2 separate regions of the Homo sapiens genome follow, and region 1 is linked to region 2. The links come from fine-mapping of genetic effects on gene expression. Tissue or cell type: whole blood. Region 2 holds a variant in brackets; the other region holds the start of a gene. Each region is shown on its reference strand, or each on the opposite one. Region 1 holds the start of POGLUT2 (protein O-glucosyltransferase 2). Region 2 overlaps HMGXB3 (HMG-box containing 3).

Region 1 (5,376 bases), not on the chromosome of region 2:
ATAGGCTGCAGCTGTCACTGTTTTGACTCATCTTTTATCTCCTTTTGTTTCTCTATTTATAAACTATTCCCAGTGAGTTGACACTTCTAACCTGACCTGTGCAGAGATATTAGAAAATAAAGTTTGCTACATATATATGATCACAGAACTCCTCTGCCTGAAAGCCTCTGCTCTTAGAACAAAAGGCCAACTCCTGATGGTCCCTAGATCTATCTGGTTAGCTCCATCTCATTCCTTTCCCCCACCCCCCAAGCTCCACATTACTTTTTGGTTCTCCCAATACTGTCTCCCTTACTTAGCTCATTCCCATTCATCTTTCCAATGTCAGCTCAAATGTCACTTTCTGGGGGAAACCTTCTTGGCTTCTCAAACTAGGCCAGGTGACCCGGTACAGACTCTAGTACCTTCCTCACACAGGTCTTACCAGGTGGCAATTTTACACTTACTTCTGTGCATATCTGTTCATATGATCAACGTCTGCATCCTGCAAGTCTGGTTTTCCAGATTATTGTATCCCCAGGGCCTAGGATTTGTAGACGTCTCATTCAACAGATAATTTTTAAGTGTTTGCATCATGCCAGGCATTACTGTAGGCCCTCATTTTGATTGATTGCGGTTCCCTCTTCCAGGCAAGTGAGGTGTTGCTATATTAAGATTTACTAAGCCGGCGTGGTGGCTCACACCTGTAATCCCAGCACTTTGGGAGGCTGAGGCGGGTGGATCATCTGAGGTCAGGAGTTTGAGGCCAGCCTGGCCAACATGGTGAGACCCGTTTCTACTAAAAAAAAATAAAAAATAAAAAAATACAAAATTAGCCGTGCATGGTGGCGCATGCGTGTAGGCCCAGCTACTCAGGAGGCAAGGCTGGAGAATCGCTGAACACCAGAGGTGGAGGTTACAGTTGCACCATTGCACTCCAGCCTGGGCGATCAGAGCAAAACTCCGTCTCAAAAAAAAAAAAAAAAAAATTTACTACTAAGAATGACTGCAGGACCTCAGGCTCAACTAATAGCTTACTCATAAAATCATGTCATAAGCAATAGAAATATGGTTTGCTCGTATGCAAAGCAAAAATTTATAAAATGGCAAGTTTAAAAAGCACCGCCAGAGTCATGATTGTTCAAAGTCACTGAACGAAGTGTTCTGTAAAATAAACGTCCATTTGTAAAGCCAATCTTCATCGCCTAGGTTGTAGTCTTTTCAGGTTATATTTTGTCTGTATTCTCAAGTATCAAGTTTATGAGAGAACCAAACATCTCTAAAAACCTCTTCAGTAAAGCCTTTTCGTATAACAAAATACCCTGATCGATATCCTGTATAGAAGGCAACTGAGGAGCAGGGGCATTCCGGTGACCTCGTAAGGGTCGAATATGCGCGGGAGGGCGAAACCAGAGGCGCATAGCCCCCGGCCGAGCTAATGCCACCCTTCCCACCCGGTGTCCTCCCGCGCCCTCCAGGCCCCTTCCTCCCCTTCAGACCTGCGGGTCCCCAGAGCCGAGGCGCCAGCCTGTCAAAAGATACCGGGAGTCCTCCGCGCCTGGCGCCAGCCTCCAGCCCGCGCCCCTGGGGAGGCCGGGAGCGTTTCCACCACCGTCCTCTGACAAGCTCGCCGCTCGGCCGGGCTCCGAGGCCGCCGGGACGGAGTAGACAGTCGCGCAGGCCAAGCCCCGCCGCGCAGAACCAGTGCGCGCGGAGGCGACGCGGGCAGAGAGGAAGGAGCGCGGCTGCGCTCCCTGCCCGTGGCCAACCCAGCCCGCGCCTCCGCGCGTGTCGCGGGCACCCCGAGTCCCCAGCCCGCAGAGCCCAAGGGCCGCCGAGGCCTCCTCGCCCCTACTCCCTCCTCTACCTTCCCTCACCGGCCGGAAGACGAGGCTCTCCGCCAGGGGGAGCGCGCCGAGGCCCGGGGGTGACCGCCTCGAACATGCTTGCCCCGGGCCCCGGGGACGCTGTTGGTGTTAAAGGGGGCCCACGGGCAATTGCTGCATCCGGGCTAAGAGCTGGGGCTCCGATTCGACTGTTTGAGTAAACGAGTCGGTATCATTAATAATGACAATTGCACAAAAGAAAATAGGAAAGAAACCCCCTTTCCTGGCGCCGAACCAGGCCCGCCTTGGCTCGGAGCCACCGGCTCTTCTGGGTTTTCGGGGCAGCTGGCAAGAGGGAGGCAGGCAGAGGAGGCGGCTCCGGGTCCGACTGCCAAGCTGACCAGGGCGGTGAGCCCGTGACTCCTGGCGGCGGCCCAGACCCGGGTGCTGGCGTGCAGGGGAAGGCGACGGCCGCTGCGCGCTGGTTCCCGGACCCTGCCCAGCGTGGCGTGGAGACCGACGGCCGCACAGGGGTCACCGGTATCCACATGGACACCTCCTAATCGAGCTTTGTTCACCAGAGGGCTAGGCCCTTCTTTCCCTGGCGCTTCTCTTCCCCCCGCGACACAGCTCTTCCCCCTACTCCTTCCCGGGAGAGCGCGCACCCATGCAGTGGCCTCCATCTGGACGCCACGGGGCTCGGAGAGGCGATGACCCCTGGCAGCCCAGGCCGGTATCGAATTAAGTAAAAATTTTGAATGCCCAGGTGGCTGCGCGTAGAGCGGCAGCAGGCCGGGCTGGCGGCGCCCAGGTGCCCAGCGGAGGGCCAGGCGCTCAGAGCGCACAGCCGGCCGCCACCTCGGCCCCTGCCCCCCGCCCCGGGGTACCTCTGGCCTGTCGGGTGGGGTCGGGTCGCTGCGGCCGCGGCGGAACCCGGCTCCGGACCTGGATCACAGCATCCAGCGCGCGGCCGGCGAGGCGCCTCCTGTTACCCTGGGGCCGGCGTCCCTCGTCCCATCGGAGCGAGCGAGGATGCTGCGGTGCCCGGCGACAGGTCGTCGGATAGCATTGACAGCACCTTCCTTTCAAGGTGCTTTATGCCTGCCCTCTCCACGTGCGGAGGGCAGGGTGACCAACGCAAAAACCTGAGCTGCGCCTCCAGACCCGTGCGCCCCTTTGATGGGCATCTGTGGTGTTTATCTGTCCCCCGAAAGCGGTGACCGAGAAGTAAATAAATGGGCGAGAGGTGGTAAAATCCTGGCAGTATTTCCGCTCGTCCTGTCGCGAACTACATATCCCAGGGAGCCCGGGGCGCCGGGACGCGTGTCCACCCCGCCATCCACTTGGAGAAGGCGTTACTGAGCCTGGCCCGACGCACGGGCCAATCCCCTCGCCCTACACCTTGGCTGGAACCTGAGACGGATTCGCTCCCAAATGATGCTCCAGTGGCAGGAGCAACTCAAGTTCATCATTGTCCTGAGAGAGAGGAGCAGCGCGGTTCTCGGCCGGGACAGCAGAACGCCAGGGGACCCTCACCTGGGCGCGCCGGGGCACGGGCTTTGATTGTCCTGGGGTCGCGGAGACCCGCGCGCCTGCCCTGCACGCCGGGCGGCAACCTTTGCAGTCGCGTTGGCTGCTGCGATCGGCCGGCGGGTCCCTGCCGAAGGCTCGGCTGCTTCTGTCCACCTCTTACACTTCTTCATTTATCGGTGGATCATTTCGAGAGTCCGTCTTGTAAATGTTTGGCACTTTGCTACTTTATTGCTTCTTTCTGGCGACAGTTCCAGCACTCGCCGAGACCGGCGGAGAAAGGCAGCTGAGCCCGGAGAAGAGCGAAATATGGGGACCCGGGCTAAAAGCAGACGTCGTCCTTCCCGCCCGCTATTTCTATATTCAGGCAGTGGATACATCAGGGAATAAGTAAGTCGAGAAACGGCTCCTTACCTATTTTGGATGGCGGTTAAATCTGTTTCTCCCTTTAAGATTTTTCTTTCCAAGAACTCGTTTCTCCACAGCAGTTTATATTCCAGGATATTTGGTTACCCATTTTTCTCTGTAGCTGTAGAAATTGTTCCGAATTATAATATATGCAATATAATGTATTGTATATAACATATAAAATAATCTCCTAGCAATTTTGATTCAGATTCCCACATTATCAGGGCAAGACAAAGTCCCTCCACTTTGCTGGAAATACTGTTTCTAACTACTTTTCGCATAAGCTATTATAAGGGATTTAAACCTAGTTGTTAGAGACTTGATGGGCTTCATCTTTCTCTGGTGCGGCCCTCAATTTTCAAGGAGACATCTGCAGGTAAGCATGTTTTGAAACTGAAAAAGAAAAATGAAGTACTATTTGAAACTTCAGAGTTCGGAAGGAAAGTATCGAAGTATTAATCTCCTATATGATTGTAACAAATATTTTGTTCCAATGAATTTAATACTTTAACATCATACTTAAAACTTATTTTTATAATTCCTATACTTCTGAAATGATTGTCTCTATTATTGGTGGATGCTGACTGTGTGTATTTCATACAGAAAAAAATACTGGAATAAAAGGTTGTCAAGTAAAAGGCAGGTTGTAAATTTTGTTATTTGGCAAAAGATGATACACTACCTACTACTTTGCTTTTGCCCATGGCTGAGCGTGAGTTTTTTTTTTTTAAGACAGGGTTTCACTTCCTAGCCTAGTCTGGAGTGCAGTGGTGCAATCACAGCTCACTGTACCCTCAACCTCCCAGGCTGAAGCTATCCTCCCACCTCAGCCTCCCTAGTAGTTGGGACTACAGGCGTGTGCCACCTCGCCTGGCTATTTGTTTTTTATTATTATTATTATTATTTGTAGAGACAGGATCTCACCTTGTTGCCCAGGCTGATCTCGAACTCCTGGCCTCAAGCAGTCTTCCCTCCTTGGCCTCCCAAGATGTTGAGATAGTAGGCATGGGCCACAGTGCCAGGCCTGAGCGTGATTTATAATACTGATATTGTAAAGATTCATTGGCAGAGATTTTTCAAAATAAGATCATTATCTTTGGGAGCATCATTTGATCACAAATATCCAGATGTGATAGCATGAAATAAGTTAGTAAGAATATTTTTCCATATGGAATGCATGAGTATGTTCTGTGCTTATATAGATTAATAGTCTTAACATACTCCATTGTGACTGTTTAATGAAACTGTTTCATGTTATCTTGGCCATTGTCATCCTCATTTTTTTAAATCTCTGATCCATCATATTCATTCTGGTACTAAAAGCATAAGAGAAGAAGAAGCAATCATATGTTAGAGGAAGAATGTGGAGGAGAATAATCAAGTTTCCAGACTGAAGAGCATAACCTTTGTGTGTTTGTTCGTTAAAATCTGTTTATCTCCCCCATTGCCTTTTCATCACAGATTCACATCTTCTCCAGGCGAAAAGGTCTTCCAGGTGAAAGTCTCAGCACCAGAGGAGCAATTCACTAGAGTTGGAGTCCAGGTTTTAGACCGAAAAGATGGGTCCTTCATAGTAAGATACAGAATGTATGCAAGCTACAAAAATCTGAAGGTGGAAATTAAATTCCAAGGG
Region 2 (5,376 bases):
GCTTCAGACCACAAGTCCTCACAGAGGGAGTCTTATCTGAGAGAACCAGGAGCCAAACTGGTGACTTAAGTGCATTCAGAGTCTCCCCAAGTCTCTATGTCCGTTCTCAACCCCCCACTCCTGTCCCTTTCCTGTCAGACAGCCCCTCCATCCCAGGTATGTCCCAGCCCTTACCACTCAGGGAAAAGGCCTGCCTGGCCCTGGGCAGTCCCATGCTGCTGCCTCGCCCCACGTTAACTGGGGCTGGCAAAATTGCTCTCATGGGTCTTGCTGCAGCCAGTAATGAGGGCTTGCCCCGTGCTCTGCCTTTAAGCTCTGGAGCTCTGGACCCAGGGGTAAGCAGGTCAGCTCTGAAAAGAATAAGAAGAGAAATCTGGAAATTCTGGAACAAAGGGAAGAAAACCAAAGCGCAATCTCTACATAGTGCTTTCTTAGAGGATAGTATTGGGGTTAAACTGTCAAGCTTTAGACAGATTGAGTTCAAATTCAACCACTAAATAGCTGTGTGGCCCTGGACAAGTAATTTCATTCTTCTGTTAACTTCAAGTTTCTAATATGTAAAATGGAACAGTAATTACCTATACAGTATGGGGTCATTGCGAAGACACAGAAGTGTAAAACGATGTCTACAGCGTGTAATGCCAATCGCTATTATAGCTGTAACATCTAATCTACCTCTAGTTAGAGCATATACTTATGACAGCAGCTTAGAGACCCTAGAGAACAGAGTCCATGTTTGCTTCATCTTTGCAGCACCAATGTTGAGCACATGGCCTATACCACAGAGGAGGCCTCAATAAACATTTGCTAGAGTGATTTACGTGTCTCAAACAAAAGGTCTAAAGTGCACAGCTTCATCCTTTAAATATACAAAACCATCGCCAAAGTATATTGCTACATGATTTTTTTTAAAAAAAGCAAGATGGGGCCGGGCGCGGTAGCTCACGCCTGTAATCCCAGCACTTTGGGAGGCCAAGGCGGGTGGATCACAAGGTCAGGAGATCAAGACCATCCTGGCTAACACGGTGAAACTCCGTCTCTACTAAAAATACAAAAAATTAGCCAGGCGTGGTGGCAGGTGCCTGCAGTCCCAGCTACTCGGGAGGCTGAGGCAGGAGAATGGCATGGACCCGGGAGGCGGAGCTTGCAGTGAGACGAGATGGCGCCACTCCAGCCTGGGCGACAGAGCGAGATTCCATCCCAAAAAAAAGCAAGATGTATTTGGGAGGCCAAGGCGGGCGGATCACCTGAGCCCAGGAGTTCAAGACCAGTCTGGGCAACATGGCAAAACCCCATCTCTACAAAAAAAAAAATACAAAAATTAGCCAGGTGTGGTAGTGCGTGCCTGTAGTCCCAGCTACTCCAGAGGCTGAGGTGGGAAGATCGATTGAGCCTGGGAGGATGAGGCTTCAGGGAGCTGTGTTCGCACCACTGCACTCCAGACTGAATGACAAAGAGAGATCCTGTCTCAAACAATAAAAATAAACATAAAAATAAAAAACAAGATGTAGAAGTATGTATGTTGTGCTATGATTTGTGTTAAAAAAAAAATGGGAAAAATATATATACACACACACACATACATATTTGCATACAAGGTATACAAGGTATTCTTATTTTTCCAGGAAAAGCCAGCCAAAGTTAAAAGTGGAATTGGCTTCTGGTGTTCATTGCGGGCACAATTGTTACCAGTTGAGAACCATTGATACAAATAAGGGTCTTCAGTTACAAGAACACAACTTCCTCAGGGAAGGGATATACACAGAATCCAATTAAGCATTTAAGGAGGAAAAGGGGAGAAAAAGATAGTGACTTCCTCCGACTTGCAAGGTACTTGGTTGCATGTTTTATATACAATCTTCAGTTTGTACAGTCAGCCTGTGAGGATAAGATTTTCTAATATCCAACTCAAGATTCTTCAGAGGAGAGAACTGAGGTGAAGAGACATGAAGTGACAATGCCCAAAGTCAAACAGAAGCCAGAAACAGTCAGAACCAGTACTGAGTTCTCTGACTATAAGGCCAGAACTCTTTCTACAGGATGCTTTAATAAAGATTCTCTTTCCAAATCCAGTATCCAGGACTGGTAACTCATAGTTTTAATACTGCCCAGAGCCTATACCAGCAAGACTCTAATTAATGCTTTAGGGAGACTGACAAGAAGAGATGTGTAAGTAATCTGACAGCAGTACATGAATAGCAGAGTCCGGGGGAAGGGACAATCTTTATATATCTCTAGGCCTTGGTTTCTGTATCTCTAAAACAGGAACCATTGCCTGGTCTCTGCTGCCTCTCTCAGGCATGCTGTACAGACATGAGATAAAAGAAACATGGGGCATTTCCAAAGCCCTATATTATACAAACACACTGACTTACCCTGTAGGTTTTTTAGGAGCAGGGAGTGGACTGGAGGTACTTGTCCCCTCGGATGGTGTTGGTA[C/A]GTCTGCTCCAGGACTGTCATTGTCAGTTGTCCCCAGAGTGACCTCAGGCTGCACACCACTTTTGACGACTGGCGTCTTAGTGACTGCTGTACCACAATTCCCGGGAGCTTCCTTAACCAAAACATGGGCATCGGAGATGATCACTTCCTCCCACTCACTCTCCTCACCTACTTCTCTGGGAGGAGCTACGTTCAGGAGCTGGCTTACAGCTTCCGAATTCTCCAGAGTCAGTTTGGAGGCATTTTCCTTAGAGGAATTTTGCTCAGTGGTGACAGGTTGCTGATTTCTTTTCACCACAGAGCCTTTGGAAGAGACGCCAGAAGCCAATTCCACTTTTACTTTGGCTGGCTTTTCCTAGAAAAATAAGAATACCTTGTATACATAAGGGATTTTACAGTTGATGACATTCACAAACATTCTCTCATTTTTAATAACATATGGGCAATAAATAAGGAAACTAAGGTCCATGAAAGGAAGAAGTTAACTTAAGATCTCAAGTGTAAAACTAGCCTGAATCTAAGTTTTCTGGCTACAGGTTCCTTTCACTATAGCATTAAATGCCTTCGTTTGAATAAAACTGTTCATCTTCTAATGAATTCTTATTGAAAAGCTTCTCCAGGTTTCATCAACCAAATGTTGGCATTTTTTAGGTTTACATTTAGTTTTACATTATTCAAAGGCTACTTCTGTGTGTCTAGAAAGAGGGTGACATACTGCCATACAGGGCCTAAAAGCCCTAAGTTGTTCACCTTGGTGGTCCTTTTATGAGATTCAGTTAATCCCAATGTGGCCGCAACCTCATGTGGACAGATTCAAATTTTCCCATCTCCTTTGGGAAAAATTCTGTTTTTTGTCCCAGATTCTTTAAGGAGAGTCTTAAGAATGACTTGCACATATGTCACATACTTTGCACTGGATCAAATTAACTCATGCATTATTATGTGCTACAAATATTCAAACTCACTAAAAATGGCAGCTGCTATTTCAGCTAGACCTGGCTTTAAAAAGTCCTTGGTGTCTTAGCTTTTATCCAATTAGCACTGCAGTGGAAATAATAGTATTATATATACACACATACGCTTTTAAAAATGTTTTTAAATAGTGGTTGTCTTCAGAAAGGTTTTCTACCCACCATGTATATCATAAAGGGCACTGTAAACTAGGAAACATAAAGGCTGGGTTCTATCAAGCTTAGCTCCACTCCTAATTAGTTATGTGGTATAAGGCAAGCTTCAATTGAATCCTCATTTCCCCTTATGAAATAGCAAAGGGTTGGGCTCTCAGTATTTGTCAACAGGAGCCAGACAGCATTTTGGGTGACCTAATTCTATAGTGTGTAGGACCTCCCTGCACATTACAGAAAGTTTAGTGTCTGTGCCAATGTCACTAAATTTCAATGATTTATCTCCCAGTCGCTTACTACCCAAAAACCCCTCAACATTTCCAAAGCCATCTGCATACTGCACTTCTAGTTCAGAACTGGTAACAGCCAGGCGTCATGGCTCATGCCCGTGATCCTAAGTCTTTGGGAAACTGAGGCAAGAGGCTCACCTAAGCCCAGGAGTTCAAGACCAGTTTGGGAAACATGGCAAGACCACATCTCTACAAAAAAAAAAAAAAAAAAAAAAATTAGCCAGGCATGGTGGTATGCAGCCTGTGTGCCTGTGTTCCCAGCTACTCGAGAGGCTGAGGTGGCAGGATCACTTGACCCCAGGAGGCTGAGGCTGCATGAGCTGTATTCATGCCTGGGTGACAGAGCGAGACCCTGTCCCTGTCTGGAAAAAAAAAAAAAAAAAAAGAGCCAGTAACAGGTGACCTCTTAAGAGCTCTTTGGTAAAGCATTCTCAGATTCTAACACATAATAGCCCCTAAGAGTGAGTTAACATGGAGAAAAATTCCAAGTCAAGTGCACAGAGCTTATTTACTGCAGGAGAGGGAAAATTTAGCAGAAAAACAGGAGACTAAACTCATTTTTTGAGATAAGATTTTTGAGCAAACACTGCCTACTAAGTAGGCTATTTTAGACAAAAATCACCACAGAAAGATTGGGTAATTTAAGCAATCTGAGCAAAACAACTCTACCTGGTGATCTCACATTTCATTAACTCAGCCTACTCATTTTAGATGTTACTTTCAAAATTCTCTGAGGCTGCAGGCTCAGAGAGACCTCAACTGCTGCCATCAGAGAGCCTTAAGAATGAAGCCTTGAGCTAAACAGCCTTATATACTATCTTTTGTTTTATCCAACTCATTGGGAACTATGCCACATATTTCTTGGGCTAATTTTAGCCAGTATGAACTCTAGAACAATACAACAAAAGGTGAGTCATTTCCTGGCTGGCACAAACACACTTGGAGCTTTTAGAGACAAATTATACTTGCTGCCTCAAAAATCAGAATTCAAGAAATCTTATTAATAGATCGGGGTGTCCAATTTTGGCTTCCCTGGGCCACATTGGAAGAACTGTCTTGAGTCACACATAAAATACACTAACACTAACAATAGCTGATGAGCCTAAAAAAATAAAAATAAAATAATCACACACAAAAAAATATAATGTTTTGCTCTTTGAGGAAGACACAGTCATAGGTGGTGCGGAGCTGCGGTCCGCCCGCTCCTGCCCGCTCCTGCTCCTGACTCACCGCTGTTCTCTCTCGCCAAGGAACAAGTCGGTCAGGAAGCCCGCTGCAGCCAAGGCTTTTAAAGACACCGGAAAAACACCCATGGAGCTGGAGGTGGCAATTCACCGAATTCAAATCACTCTAACGAGCTGCAACATAAAATCCCTGGAGAAGATGTGTGCTGACTTGATCAGAGGAGCAAAGGAAAAGAATCTCAGTGAAAGGATCAGTTCGAATGCCTACCAAGACTTTGAGAATCACTACAAGAAAAACTTGTGGTCAAGGTTCTAAGACATAGGAATGTTTCCATAGGA

What was found. PIP is the estimated chance that this variant, and not a neighbour inherited with it, causes the effect.
Region 1: it holds the start of POGLUT2, and the variant in region 2 is the best candidate, but not a certain one, in a credible set for the expression of POGLUT2 in whole blood (TOPMed, PIP 0.51).

What each region holds. Positions count from the first base shown.
Region 1 is chr13:102,796,838-102,802,213 of GRCh38, reverse strand. It overlaps POGLUT2 (protein O-glucosyltransferase 2), which reads left to right and starts at 3,238. Exons shown (of 10, transcript NM_024089.3): 1 at 3,238-3,725; 2 at 5,205-5,376. The coding sequence starts at 3,544. BIVM (basic, immunoglobulin-like variable motif containing) reads right to left here and starts at 3,095. Exons shown (of 11, transcript NM_017693.4): 1 at 2,693-3,095. RefSeq lists silencers at 1,469-1,898, 1,929-1,978, 2,539-2,808 and an enhancer at 2,869-3,088.
Region 2 is chr5:150,021,680-150,027,055 of GRCh38, reverse strand. It overlaps HMGXB3 (HMG-box containing 3), which reads right to left. Exons shown (of 20, transcript NM_014983.3): 7 at 2,376-2,794; 8 at 175-350; 9 at 1-36. It also overlaps the pseudogene RPS20P4. Among named protein-coding and RNA genes, the nearest start is that of HMGXB3, 24 kb to the right of the region's middle. The variant C/A (reference allele first, on the strand shown) is at 2,440.